4 linked regions of the Homo sapiens genome follow. The protein of the gene in region 1 interacts with the protein of each later gene in a pairwise test. Each region holds a gene or a part of one and is shown in the gene's direction. Other genes may lie near its edges.

What was found. The genes of interacting proteins can lie anywhere in the genome.
Region 2: the proteins of KCTD9 (region 1) and PSMB2 interact in binary tests that used the Homo sapiens proteins (3 or more experiments, as listed by UniProt).
Region 3: the proteins of KCTD9 (region 1) and KIF9 interact in binary tests that used the Homo sapiens proteins (3 or more experiments, as listed by UniProt).
Region 4: the proteins of KCTD9 (region 1) and SLAIN1 interact in binary tests that used the Homo sapiens proteins (3 or more experiments, as listed by UniProt).

Annotation. Positions count from the first base shown.
Region 1 is NC_000008.11:25,427,434-25,430,933, reverse strand, and holds the end of KCTD9 (BTB/POZ domain-containing protein KCTD9), read left to right. Parts: intron 1-960; coding exon 961-1,077; 3' UTR 1,078-3,087; downstream 3,088-3,500. UniProt on the Homo sapiens protein: Substrate-specific adapter of a BCR (BTB-CUL3-RBX1) E3 ubiquitin-protein ligase complex, which mediates the ubiquitination of target proteins, leading to their degradation by the proteasome.
Region 2 is NC_000001.11:35,624,527-35,628,026, reverse strand, and holds part of PSMB2 (proteasome subunit beta type-2), read left to right. Parts: intron 1-3,500. UniProt on the Homo sapiens protein: Non-catalytic component of the 20S core proteasome complex involved in the proteolytic degradation of most intracellular proteins. This complex plays numerous essential roles within the cell by associating with different regulatory particles.
Region 3 is NC_000003.12:47,265,800-47,269,299, reverse strand, and holds part of KIF9 (kinesin-like protein KIF9), read left to right. Parts: intron 1-2,036; coding exon 2,037-2,120; intron 2,121-2,231; coding exon 2,232-2,324; intron 2,325-3,422; coding exon 3,423-3,500. UniProt on the Homo sapiens protein: Essential for normal male fertility and for progressive motility of spermatozoa.
Region 4 is NC_000013.11:77,746,187-77,749,686, forward strand, and holds part of SLAIN1 (SLAIN motif-containing protein 1), read left to right. Parts: intron 1-327; coding exon 328-669; intron 670-3,500. UniProt on the Homo sapiens protein: Microtubule plus-end tracking protein that might be involved in the regulation of cytoplasmic microtubule dynamics, microtubule organization and microtubule elongation.

The DNA of each region.
Region 1 (3,500 bases):
AGCTCGAATCCTGGAGGTGGAGGTTGCAGTGAGCCGAGATTGCACTCCAGCCTGGGCAACAAGAGCAAAACTCCGTTTCAAAAAAAAAATTGTGTGTGTGTGTGTGTGTGTGTGTGTGTGTGTGTATTTATTATGTTGGAATCCATTCTGTATTTTAAATCAGTGGTCCCCAACCTTTTTGGCACCAGGGACTGGTTTTGTGGAAGAAAATATTTTCACAGATCAGAGTCGGGGGCTGGTTTTGGGATGATTCAAGCGCGTTACATTTATTGTGCACTTTATTTCTACTAGTATTACATTGTAATACATAATGAAATAATTATATAACTCACCATAATGTAGAATCAGTGGGAGCCCTGAGTTTGTTTTCTTGCAACTAGACAGTCCCATCTGGGGGTGTTGGAGACAGTGACAGATCATCAGGCATTAGATTCTCATGAGGAGTACCCCACCTAGATCCCTCACATGTGCAGTTCACAATAGGGTTCACGCTCCTGTGCGAATCTAATGCCCCTGCTGATCTGACAGGAGGTGGAGCTCAGGCTGTAACTTGAGCCATACAGGGACTGGCTGTAAATACAGATGAAGCTTCATCTACTGGTGACCTCCTGCTGTGTGGCCTGATTCTTAACAGGCCATGGACCAGTATCAGTCTGTGGCCCAGGGGTTGGGGACCCCTGTTTTCAATGTCTCCTTATAAAATATGCAAGAACAAGGGACATGCTTCCTCTTTAACCTTTGTTTATACATATTTATGGTGATCAGCCTGAACTAGAGGTAACAAATAAAGATAGAAGAACATCTTAATTTAGGGTGGTGTATCATCAGTTTTCCGGAAATTAACTGAGTTTTATTGTATAAGAACATTTTCCTAATCTGCCCCAGAAATCATTTTGAGCAGAAATAGATAAGGCCTGAAATTTCCACATGAATTACATGAATATTGTTTTCATCTTGCAGAATTGTGATCTGTCTGGGTGTGATCTTCAAGAAGCCAACCTGAGAGGGTCCAACGTGAAGGGAGCTATATTTGAAGAGATGCTGACACCACTACACATGTCACAAAGTGTCAGATGAGAATTTTAGGGGCTGGAGGAAGATGTAAAAGATGAAAATGTTTTCCTTATCACTTTTCTTTCTCCACCCACTCAGTTGTCTAGAAGAAATAACACTGTAAGGAAATTTAAAAAAAAAACATTTAGAGGATTATGCTTGTTTTGAGTGGTGCATAAGGGAAAAAACTGACTTTTTTTCCATATTCTGATTTTTAACAGAAAAGCACTCATTTAATAGATGTAGGGAAACTAGATATTGCTGCCTTTTGAATGGGGTAGGGGGGTTTACCTGGTTTTATGACCAGGCATAGTATCTATTATATTTGCTTTTAAATAGGCATGATGTGGAAATACCATCTTGGTTTGAGATGCATTTGAGGATTTTAATTTATGGAAAGCACAACATATGCAATTATATTTATTGAATTCCTAGATGCAGTATGGATATTTAAATTGTTAAAACTTTATGAAAACTTGGAAAAGGTTGTTCAGGTTTATAAATAGCTTTAGTGATGCCTCCCCTCTTTAAATACCTGTCACACCGTATGAATATGGTGAGATCAGACTCCCTAAGACTCTTTTCAGGTTCATTTTTATAATGTTTACTTTTTAGGACAGAACAGTAGCTAAATTAAAGTAATATCCAGTTCTTACTGATTGAGACAGAGTGGAAAGAAAGACATCATTGTACATCACTGTCATTCCAAAGGTACAGTGTAACTCTGGATGGAGGAATAACTTACCTATCACTACAACACTTACAAATGAGAATTTCTCAGAATTTCATTCTAGGCAAGTTCCACTCAACACCAGATCAAGCAATTCTATCTATTTACACTATTAGCCTAGTTTTCTCATACAGTCATCACAAGCATAGGAAGATACTTCAAAACCAAAAAAACCAAGGTGCATCATTAATATTCATTTAATTCAAATACCAAATAGTTTACATAGGGCCAGCTTAGAAATAGATACTAAATCCAGAGCTACTGCAATCAAAGCTTATATGAGTGAATATGGTAGAGTTGCCTGCTAAAAGGCAATGTAATATAATTGCAGCTAGAACCCTACAGTGGGGAATGAGGAATTTTAAACACACATTTGATTACAGCCACCAAAAAAATAGACGTAAAAATAAAGGCATTTGGCTGGTCCAAGATGTAATTATCAATCAGTCAGCACCTGTGATTCTTTTACTTATTTTTTTGTGGTTTTTTTTTTTTAAACAAATTTTAGCCCAATTTTCTTGAGTCATTCTCTCTCTGCAGCAGCAGAGGAAGGGCCTGTACCTCCCTACCAATGACTTGGTGTCCTTATTTTCTACCCCAAGAGCAGGGATATTAGCTGTGTCCAAATGGGTTCTGAATTCTACAGACTCATCAACATGAGGCAAGGAATCATTGAAAACCACCTGTGTCTCCTTTGGGAGAATGACATATCTTTAGTATTTACGTAGCTTATTCTTCTATATCTACATATGCAAAGCTTTCCTTAACAGTAAAGGGTACATATGCATAGTGGGAGGAGATCAGACCTTTACAAGTGAAGGAAAGCAACTTCAGAAATGAATTATTTTCTTTGCTTTATTATTTTTACCAAGACAGAGAAGTATTGTATTGAGAGATAATCTATTTTCATAATCAATATGTGCCTAAATTATATTTAAATCATTTCACTCTGTACTATATTTTCAGGAATTACAGAATGTGGTATTCATTCACTTAAAGGTACCTCTGTAGAAATAACCTAAAACTGCAGAAGGATCTGAAAGATCTAAACATGGTGTGCTTAGAAACTGCAGATTTTAGATCTAATGTATACTGCATTAATAAATGATATAAAGTGTTTGTTGAAAAGGAGTTTCTTCTCTTCCTTTTGAAAATCATCACTTTCTGTATTTTGCTTACATTTCTTCAATATGTGTTGACAACCAGCCCTGTGGTTCTGGGTAGCAAAGGAAATACAGTATAACTTAATTTGTTATGGATTAGTCTTTTTGAAAGTACCATTAAAGTAAATTTATTTCTTTAAACATGATTATTTTTATCATTCTTTTAAAAATACACCATGCTAACAACACAAACCTTATGAATTCTGAACAAAAGAAAAGACTGCCTCCCCAATAATTCGTTTAATTTGTTTGTGTTAAATTCATCACTCTTTAGGTGATGAATATTACCAGTTAGCTTTATTAGACTGGATAAATAGCATGCCCCAAAACATTTTTTGCCTGATAACTAGGATAGAGAATTTTAAGGAGGGAAGAAACCGTTAAAATAGTAAAACTTCCATTAACCCTAGAGATGAAACATGTCTGTACACATAGGTAAAAATACAGCTGTTGGGATGACAGGAAAAAGGTTTTAAATCAAAATTAAACTAGCTGGATTATCTGCATTAATAAAATTTGGTACTCAACTAAGCAATACTATCTATTGTAGTCTA
Region 2 (3,500 bases), on another chromosome or scaffold:
TATGGTCACACCAGTTGGCAGATGTGACTCATTTTGGGTCAGCCAGTTACCATGTATAACTTCTGTGTCTGTAGCTCAAATTGTTTGATTTCTAATTTGCTCTGTGTATGTGTGGTGGTTTGGTTGGGAGGACATTTACTACCACTGAGTATATAATGAATCTTACATAAACTGGTTCATTAAAATGTAGGCAATTTAGCATTGTGGTTAAGAGCATAGTCTCTGGAATTGGACTACCTGGGTTTGAATATTTGCTTACTGACTTACTAGCTGGATGTCTTTGGACAAATTCTAAGCTTAATTTCCCTACTTACCAATTTCAAAAAGTTATTATGAAGATTAAATAAGGTAATAATGCAAAGCTCTTACTTTTTTTTTGAGACAGGATCTCACTCTGTCATCTAGGCTGGAGTGCAGTGGTATGACCACAGCTCTCTGCAGCCCCTTGACCTTTCAGGCCCAGATGATCCTTCCACCTCAGCCTCCCTGGCAGCTGGGACTGTAGGTGCATACCACTATGCCTGGCTAATTTTTTGTAGAGATGGGGTTTCTCCATGTTGCCAGGCTGGTCCCGAACTCCTGGGCTCAAGCAATCCTCCCGCTTCTGCTTCCCAAAGTGCTAGGATTACAGGCATGAGCCACCATGCCCAGCCCACTTGTGTTTTTATGCTGCGATTGCTGTTTGGTCAAAGAAGCAATTTAATGGCTATAAGTTAGTTTTTCGTGAGGGATCATTTGTTGTGCTTTTTTTTTTTTTTTTTTTTTTTTGAGATAGGGTCTCGCTCTGTCACCTAAGAGGTGGCACAGTCACAGCTCACTGCAGCCTCAACCTCCCGGGCTCAAACAATACTCCCACTTCAGCCTCCCAAATAGCTGGAACTACAGGCGCCAAGCCACCATGCTGGTATTGATAGGGAAAATAGAAGTAAAATAACATTGAACATATATTATGTGCTAGGATTTTTCTAGATCTACACAGTCCAGTATGGTAGCCAACTAGCCACATGGGGCTATTTAAATTTAAGTTAATTAAAATTAAATAAAACTTAAAATTCAGTTTCTGGTGGAAAATCTCCTGGTAGACTTTGCCTGAATGCTAAATCAACTTTTGTTCTTAAAAAAAAAAATTCTGTTCCTCAGTCACAGCCACATTTCAGGTACCCAATAGCCACAACTATTGTATTAGACATCACAGATCTGGAACATATCCATCATCATAGAAGTTCTCTTGGACAGTGCTATTCTAAATACTTACATATGTATCTGTTATTAAGTATCCTTATTATGACACCATAAGATGTGTGTTATCCCCATTTTACTTACAAGGATGTTAAGTATTTCTCTTAGATATGTTTCCAAAGCACATATATACTATGTTAAAGGTTAAGATTCCAGCTTCAAATATCAAACTCTTTCATGGTGTCTTCTTTATTAATTAGTGGACTAATGTACAAGTGTATTTGTGCATTTAGGGAAACATGAAATGTTCAGTTTTGTTAAAATGTCGAAATTGCACATAGTATTATATAGATAAGTTTGAATATATGTCCATTGTAGGTTTTCAATAAGTGTTTGCTGAAAAAGTGTCATCCAGCTAGGTCTATATATTCTGCTGAGAATATTAATTATGCATTTATACACTGGAAGGGAATTCTTAATGAATGGAATACCGGAAGAAGTATTCTTAATAAATGGATGTTAATTTGTATAGGAATTAAAGGCATGAAATCATCAGAAGACGAAAAAAGACAGATGGGGAAAAAATTCAGAAGCCTTCAGTTTAGTTGTTTATTTAAATGCTTGTATACATTTAAGATGGTCTCTTCTTGTTGGTTAGACCCCAAAGAGCAGAAAAAGGGCTTATACTATGCTCAAGGCTTGCTTTCTTCGGCCAGGCACAGTGGCTCATGCCGGTAATCCTAGCACTTTGGGAGGCCAAGATGGACAGATCAGTTGAGCCCAGGAGTTCAAGACCAGCCTGGCCAACATGGTGAAACCCCATCTCTACTAAAAATACAAAAAATTAGCCAGATGTGGTGGCACACACCTGTAATCCCAGTTACTCAGGAGGCTGACGCAGGAGAATAGCTTGAACCCAGAAGGTGGAGGTTGCAGTGAGCTGAGATCATGCCACTGCACTCCAGCCTGGGTGACAGAGCAAGACTCTGTCTAAAAAAAAGGCTTCCTTTCTCAAATTCTCCTTACAGTTTGACTAATGTCAGAGGATGATGAGTTATGGGGCTATTTCTTTTCTTTTTTTTTTTTGAGACGGAGTCTCACTGTGTCACCCAGGCTGGAGTGCAGGGGCACGATCTCGGCTCACTGCAAGCTCCACCTCCCGGGTTCATGCCATTCTCCTGCCTCAGCCTCCTGAGTAGCTGGGACTACAGGCGCCCGTCACCATGCCTGGCTACTTTTTTGTATTTTTAGTAGAGACGGGGTTTCACCATGTTGACCAGGATGGTCTCGATCTCTTGACCTCGTGGTCCACCCGCCTTGGCCTCCCAAAGTGCTAGGATTACAGGCATGAGCCACCATGCCCAGCCTATTTCTTACTTAAAATGAATTATGTGGCATATTTGATGTAGCCCATCTGAATGCCCTAAAATTATCTCCATTTAACAGATAGAGAGACAGGTATAAACCAGGCAAATCTGGTGTCCTTGGGAACGTGAAATTTTGTGGCAAGGCTTAGAGTAGGATGCTGGCCTCCATGATGTGTAATCGTCGGGTTTCACTGCCACACTGGCCAAAGAGTTTTCATTAGAACTTTTTCCGAAGTGTTTCATGAGCCTTTGGTAATTTATCTTTTTACCTATTTATTTGTAAATGCTTAGCAAGTAAACAGTAGAAATAATAAGTTGAAAAGATATCCAGCCTGATGTAGTGGTTTTCAAACTTTATTCTGTGAAGCTGCTTCAGGATACTCACCAAGGAAGACCAGTGTGCAATGCTTTTTTTTTTTTGAGGTGGAGTTTCGCTCTGTCACCCAGGCTGGAGTGCAGTGGCATGATCTCAGCACACTGCAACCTCCACCTTCCAGTTTCAAGTGATTCTTCTTCCTCAGCCTCCCGAATAGCTGGGACTACAGGCGTGCACCACCATGCCTGGCTAATTTGTGTATTTTTAGTAGAGACGGGGTTTCATCGTGTTAGCCAGGATGGTCTCGATCTCCTGACCTCGTGATCCACCCGCCTCGGCCTCCCAAAGTGCTGGGATTACAGGCGTGAGCCACCGTGCCTGGCGTTTTTTTGTTTTTGTTTTTGTTTTTTTTGAGACAGAGTCTTGCTCTCTCACCCAGTCTGGAATGCAGTGGTGTAATCTCGGCTCACTGCAACCTCTGCCTCCTGGGTTTGAGCAATTCTCCTGCATCAGCCTCCTGAGTAGCTGGGATTACAGGCATGCATCACCATGCCTGGCTAATTTTTGTATTTTTCATAGAGACGGGGTTTCACCATGTTGGCCAGGCTGGTCTCCAACTCCTGACCTCAAGTGATCTG
Region 3 (3,500 bases), on another chromosome or scaffold:
AAAAACAAGAAAAGAAATCAGTCAAGTGTATGTTATTCTTTTAGAAGTCATATAGGCTAGGAACTCTTTATTTTTTTATGCAAGTTCTCGCTGTGTTGCCCAGGCAATGGGCACATGTGCAATGGCTATTCACAGGCATGATCATAGTGCCTTCTCACAACATAGCAACTTACTTCCTCAACGTCAATAGCAGGATCTTTTTTAAAGGGCCAGAAAGACAAGGCAAGGCCAGGCGCGGTGTCTCACACCTGTAATCCCAGAGCTTTGGGAGGCCGGGGCAGGCGGATCACTGGAAGTCAGGAGTTCGAGACCAGCCTGGCCAACATGGTGAAACCCCCTCTCTATTAAAAATACAAAAAAAGAAAGACAAGGCAAGAGGGTACTTCAGAAGGGGGACTGAAGAGTAAAGGTGAATGACCTGCTGTGGTGGCTCATGCCTGTAATCCCAGCACTTTGGGAGGCTAAGGCAGGAGGATTGCTTGAGCTCAGGAGTTTAAGACCAGTCTGAGCAACATGGCGAAACCCTGTCTCTACAAAAAAATATAAAAAATTAGCCTGGCATGGTGGCCTGTACCTGTGATTTTAGCTACCTGGGAGGCTGAGGTAGGAGGATCACTTGAGCCCGGGAGGCAGAAGTTGCAGTGAGCCAACATCACGCCACTGCACTTCAGCCTGGGCAACAGAGTGAGAATGATCTCAAAAAAAAAAAAAAAAAGAAGAAGAAAAATGAAGTGACCCCTTATATTCTTGGTGAGTGTCACTGGATTTGTAGAACAGGCCTGACCATAGACTATAGCCTCACTACTATAAGCTATAGAGGTATGGCCACAGGAGTCTGCTAGGCTTGCTCCACAGCCTCAGGCCTTCCCTCTTCAGCGGGTGCTCTCCTCTCCCCAGGGGGGGCTGTCCCCCACCCTCACTTTGGGGCTTGTTCATAGCACTTCTCATCAGCATTTAAGGAGACATCAGTCTATCCCTCAAGGACCTTTTTCTCCAAGAACAGCCATTTCCACCACACCACCACCCTGTCTCTACAAAAAATTCCTTTTTAAGTATATTCTGGTCATAAGGCCTCCTCCTGTAAATTAGAGGTAAGGGCCTACTGTCCCTTTAAAAATACAAATTACTAGGTCAGGCACAGTGGCTCATGCCTGTAATCCCAGCACTGTAGCAGGCCGAGGCGGGCAGATCTCTTGAACTCATAAGTTCCAGACCAGCCTGGGCACATGGTGAAACCCTGTCTCTACAAAAAATACAAAAATTAGCCAGGTGTGGTAGTGCACGCTGGTAGTCCCAGCTACTCAGGAAGCCGAGGTGGGAGGATGGCTTGGGCCCGGGAGGCAGAGGTTATAGTGAGCCGAGATCGTGCCACCACACTCTAGTATGGGTGACAGACTGAGATGCTCTCCCAAAAAAAAAAAAAAAAAGGAGAACACAAAATAAATAAAAATATAAATTATTATTTTTATAGTAATACATGCTCACTAAAAAAAACCCACAAAACTGTATAAAAAAGATAAAATAACCTATAAACCCCAACCCAGAAGCAACTATTATTAACATCTTATTAGCAGAATTCTGCTTATTTCTTCTATGAATGCTTTTGCATTTCTTAGATCAGCTATAATATGATTTTGGATTCTACATTTCTCTCTGTTATTAAAAACTATGTGTCAGCATTTTCCTGGCTGCCCAATATCCCACTGTATACATAGATCATTCCCAAATTGTTGGACATGCAGGTTGATTCTGATTCAATATTCATAAACATTTTTAAGGCTCTTGATTTTTATTGTCACTTTGCTTTCCAGAAAGCTATACCAATTCACACTTCCCCAGCGGCGGGTGAAAGTGTAGATGTGGACTCCAATTTGACTCCCTTTCTATTAGTTTATAAAAGAGGTTTGCCTGGAAGGCCCAGCTGATCGCAGTGATATGAGACCACTTGTGTAGCTATTGGTATAATTGAAAAATGACCCAAGTGCCTTGTCGTTTTAGTTTTTCGAAATGTTGCCTATGATTCCCTTCCTCTTCAGGGTGAGACCAACAGGATTATAGCCTCCCACACTATGAACAAAAACTCTTCCAGATCACACTGCATTTTCACCATCTACTTAGAGGTAGGTGCAAGCTCTTTGATCAGCCCAGGCGGGGCAGTCAATTCCCACGGGGCCTGCTCAGTCAGAAACTTCTCCCTGTGACAGTCTAACTTCTGCTTGGATGTTTTGTAGGCCCATTCCCGGACCTTATCAGAGGAAAAGTACATCACTTCCAAAATTAACTTGGTGGATCTGGCAGGCTCAGAGAGGCTGGGGAAGTCTGGGGTAAGTGATGGGGGCTGGAGGTTGCTACTCAATAAACCACAAGCCCTTTTTCTGGCACAGTGCCTGCACATCTGGGCCATGACTCATTGGATATTTGTGAACACAGTCCTGAGCTAGGCGAAGTGGGACATGTGGGCTTGCTGGAGGGACAGGATTTGCAAAAAGGGAACGGCTATTACCTGGGGGCGGTTCCTACCTCAGAGGATTTTTGTAAACATTAAATGAGATAGTGCCCTCTACATTCTTAGCAAAGTGCCTGGCACTCAGTGCTCAGTAAATATTCCTTGCTGGTATAGCATTTCTCTGTGTGTGTTTTTGTTGTTGTTGTTTTGAGACACAGTCTCGCCGTGTCTCCCAGGCTGGGGTACAGTAGCACAAATACAGCTCACTGCAGCCTTGACCTCCCAGGCTCAAGTGATCATCCCACTTCAGTGTCTCAAGTATCTGGGACCACAGGTATGCACCACCATGACCAGCTAATTTTTAAATTTTTTTGTAGAGACGGGGTCTCGCTATGTTGCCAAGGCTGAACTTGAACTCCTGGGCTCAAGCGATCCTCCTGCTTTGGCCTCCCAAAGTGCTGGGATTACAAGTGTGAGCCACCACACCTGGCTTCTTTGTGAATGAATATGAGTATTCGTATGAGTATTTGCATGAGTATTTCAAATAAATATTTGTATGAGTGTATTAGCAGAAGTATTAACAAGAGTATTCAGATGAGCATTTGTATGTGCATTCATGAGTGTTTGTGTGAATATTCACAGGATTCTTTGCTCAAATATCTAGACAAGTATTTCAGTACATATTCATATTAGTGTGAATCTTTGAGTGAATGTCCATATGAATATTCATGTAAGCATTCACATTCGCATGAGTATTCACATGAGTGTTCACATGAATATTTCTGAGTTTTGGTATTACCATTATTAGCCCAAGATGGAATACAATCGCATGACATTGAAAGAAGACCCTGGTTCTGGGAAGGAGGCGCTGACCTGACCACAGACTTATAGCATTTCTCCAGACCAGGAAGACTGCTATTCTTAGTGGGGCAGCTGCTTTATTCCATCCAAAGTGGAACTGACCTTTGCTTTGTAGTCTGAGGGCCAAGTCCTGAAGGAAGCCACCTACATCAACAAATCGCTCTCATTCCTGGAGCAGGCCATCATTGCCCTT
Region 4 (3,500 bases), on another chromosome or scaffold:
TTCCTAAGTTCCCCTTCTAAAATATCTCTTGATTTGAAAAGGGGAAATTGATAGATATTAACGAATGAGCTGTGGCAGGTATATATAATCCTCACTGGAATTGGGGCAATCTTTTTGCAAAACAGAATTGTCCAATATTAGATATCTGTTTCATAGGTAAATGTGATTATTGTCTTGGTAAACTTGTCAATTTAGTAAACTTGAGAACAAGATAATAAGTCTCTGTGAGTAATTTATTTGGCACAATTTTTCATCTAATACTTGGTTAATTATAACTAAATGTTAGCTAGATCAAAATACATTAGAGTACTATTTGTTATTTTATAGGTCTCAGGCAAGATTATGCTTCTACTTCAGCATCTGTATCAAGACATAGTTCCAGTGTGTCATTGAGTTCAGGAAAAAAAGGGACATGTAGTGATCAAGAATATGACCAATACAGTCTGGAGGATGAAGAGGAATTTGATCATTTGCCACCACCTCAGCCTCGTCTTCCAAGATGTTCCCCTTTCCAAAGAGGAATTCCCCATTCACAGACTTTCTCCAGCATTCGGGAGTGTAGGAGGAGCCCCAGTTCCCAGTATTTTCCTTCAAATAATTACCAGCAGCAACAGTATTATTCACCTCAAGCCCAAACTCCAGATCAGCAACCAAATAGGACCAATGGAGGTAGGTTGTATGCTTTTTTGGTATTTGATATGCTTTAATTTTTTTATATGTGGTCAAGAAATGGTTTTTGTGTTTTTGTTTTTGTTTTTGAGACAGAATCTGTCTCTGTCTCCTAGGTTGGAGTGCAGTGGCACGATCTCAGCTCACTGCAACCTCCACCTCCTAGGTTCAAACGATTCTCCTGCCTCAGCCTTCCAAGTAGCCGGGGTACAGGCATGTGTCATTATGCCTGGCTAATTTATTTTTTATTTTTTATTTTTTATTTTTAGTAGAGATGGGGTTTCACCCTGTTGACCAGGCTGGTCTTGAACCACTAACCTCAGGTAATCTGCCCGCCTTAGCCTCCCAAAGTGCTGGGATGACAGCCACCATACCCGGCCAAGAAATGGTTTTAAGAGAAATATAGATAATTGGTCAATGTTTCTCAGATTAAAAATCATCCTCCAGACCTTCTCAGTTTGGTCTAAATTTGCGTCTCTAATTGACTGGCTTCTGATTACGTGTCCCAGATTTATAAACGCACAGCCTCAAGAAAACCTTCATGACATAGCTGGCTCGGAATGAGTTATAAATGTGCGGCATCTCTGCATTGTTGCTGGTGCCTGTGGCAGAGGCAGGGTTGTACAAGCTGAGAAGTTTGTGGTCAAGCCCATGGAGGCAAAGTCTGTGAGTTGTCATTCCTTACCTTGTCCACAGCCTTCAGTCTCTTACTGTCTGTTCCTAGCACAGAGTGAGGTTGTAAGCATGAATGATGATGCTTGCAGAGGATGCTGCTCTTACACAGCCAGATCTAGGCAAGTTTGGGATGTGTCTTTCCCTCTGATCTCCTGACATCTAGAATTAAGATCTGTGTAGCAGCAGGAACATGGAGGTTGCTTTCCATTAGCATTTGACAGGGTAATGGGAAATTGATCTGTCTTGTCAACATGGTGGGTTGCTGTCTGTGTCATTCGTTTATTCTATCTCTTCATCATTTATCTTTCTTCCACACTTGCAGAAGTTGGACTCTGACTTCTAAGAACTATGGGAGAAGCAATCATGTAATATTCTAAGCCTGTTGTGTTTTTGTACTAATGATCACCTGAACCCTCACACATAAATTCTATATATTATGGAGAAACAAACCAATAAAAAAATTTATAATTATACAATTACAGTTCTTAATTATTATATAGCACTATTTCTCAAAGCTGGGTCCAGATGTGATCAAATGGTCTTTAAAAATATTTATAGGCCAAATATAAATTTTGTATTAGTGATCAGCCATAACCCTGTATTTAGTTTTTACCCTTTCTTCCTTTATACTGGTATCATTCATGCTGATGCTAATTAAGAGATCATTTGGAAATATTTAAAATTTTGTATTTGTAATTTCTCTTACTACCTTGAGATTTCAAGTTTAAAGGAGTGGTGGCTAAAAAATGTCATCATGACTAACATATTAAAGCTCATAGATCAGAAAGACAATGTATTCCATGTGCTTAGTGGAAGTCATAACATCTTATTAAAATTGAGAGGGCACCTAGAGTTATTTCTCTAAAGCTTTTTTTTTTTTTTTTTTTTTTTTTTACTTAAAGTGTTTTAGAACATCGTAGTCAAGTTGCCAAGCAGATGCTAGCTCTGCATCTTGATTGATATTGTCAATGGGATCATTTTTCTCCGCTTAGCTGTTTGTTGCACCTCAGAAAAGTGGTATTCACTTCCATCAAACACCGTTTGAAAAGGATTAGGTTTCTGTGAATCCTGTGCTGGGATACTCTTCACAGGAAAGTGGAGACATATCACAGTTTAGGTCCCTTTATGGTAGTTTTATTTTGCCTAAAATGTCTAGTTTTCACAATACAAGAAAAATGGAATACAAAGGCAATCTTCTGGATATGACTTCTGACTAATTAGCTTAATGGTTGAGAGCAGAGGCTCTGAAGTCCAGTAGATCCTGTGTTTCTCAACTGTCTAAGGTTCGGTTTCCCTAACTAAAATGTGGACAAGATGATATCTGTCTCTTAGGAAACTTAGGTATAATTTCACACCAAACCATCTGGTACACATTTTCTCCACCTAAATATATTATAAGGAATAAATGAAATAATGAATGTTACATTGCATGTAGCCTGGAGTGGATGTGCTAAATAAAGGTTGTCTTCTCCCCTTTTGTTTTTAAACTTTTATTAACATATGATTCAGATGTCCTAGCCTGCATTTGTTACTATAGAATATTGAGCAAAAAACTGAAATAAGAATGGTAACTTTGAAGCTAATCTATTAAATATTTTTCTAAATTATCAAAATAATATAGATAGAAAATAATTGTAAACTGTTGATTCATTTTAAAATAATTGAGAATAAACTAGAAATGTATATTAATATTTACTGCTTTTGTAGTTCCTACACTGCCTAGATTTAAAGAGATGGTTCATAAAACTTTCTGGGATATTTCTGAGATTCATAGAATTAAAAGAAGCATAACTGGAATAACTTGCTAAATATCAAAATGACTCAACTTGTAGAATCTTTACCAACTTTTTTATAATTCTACGGTATGGCAGGGGTTACTGGAGGCATGATGTAGTCCTTATTATCATGAGGACCTCCCCTGGAGCCTGTGTTGCCTGGATGCCTAGATCTAGCTGTTTGGTGGACAATGAGTGTCTCCTTTAGTCCTAAAGATTCCTGAGTCTTTGTTCATAGAGTGATGAGTCTTGCTGCCTCTTTAATGTGAGCAAGCTCATTTGAATTCTTTACTTGGTCTATTCTTCCAGTTTCCTGCTGCATCTCAGCCCTTGAAGATTAAACTGCTGATTTCTTGTGAAGATAGAACTAGAACATTACTT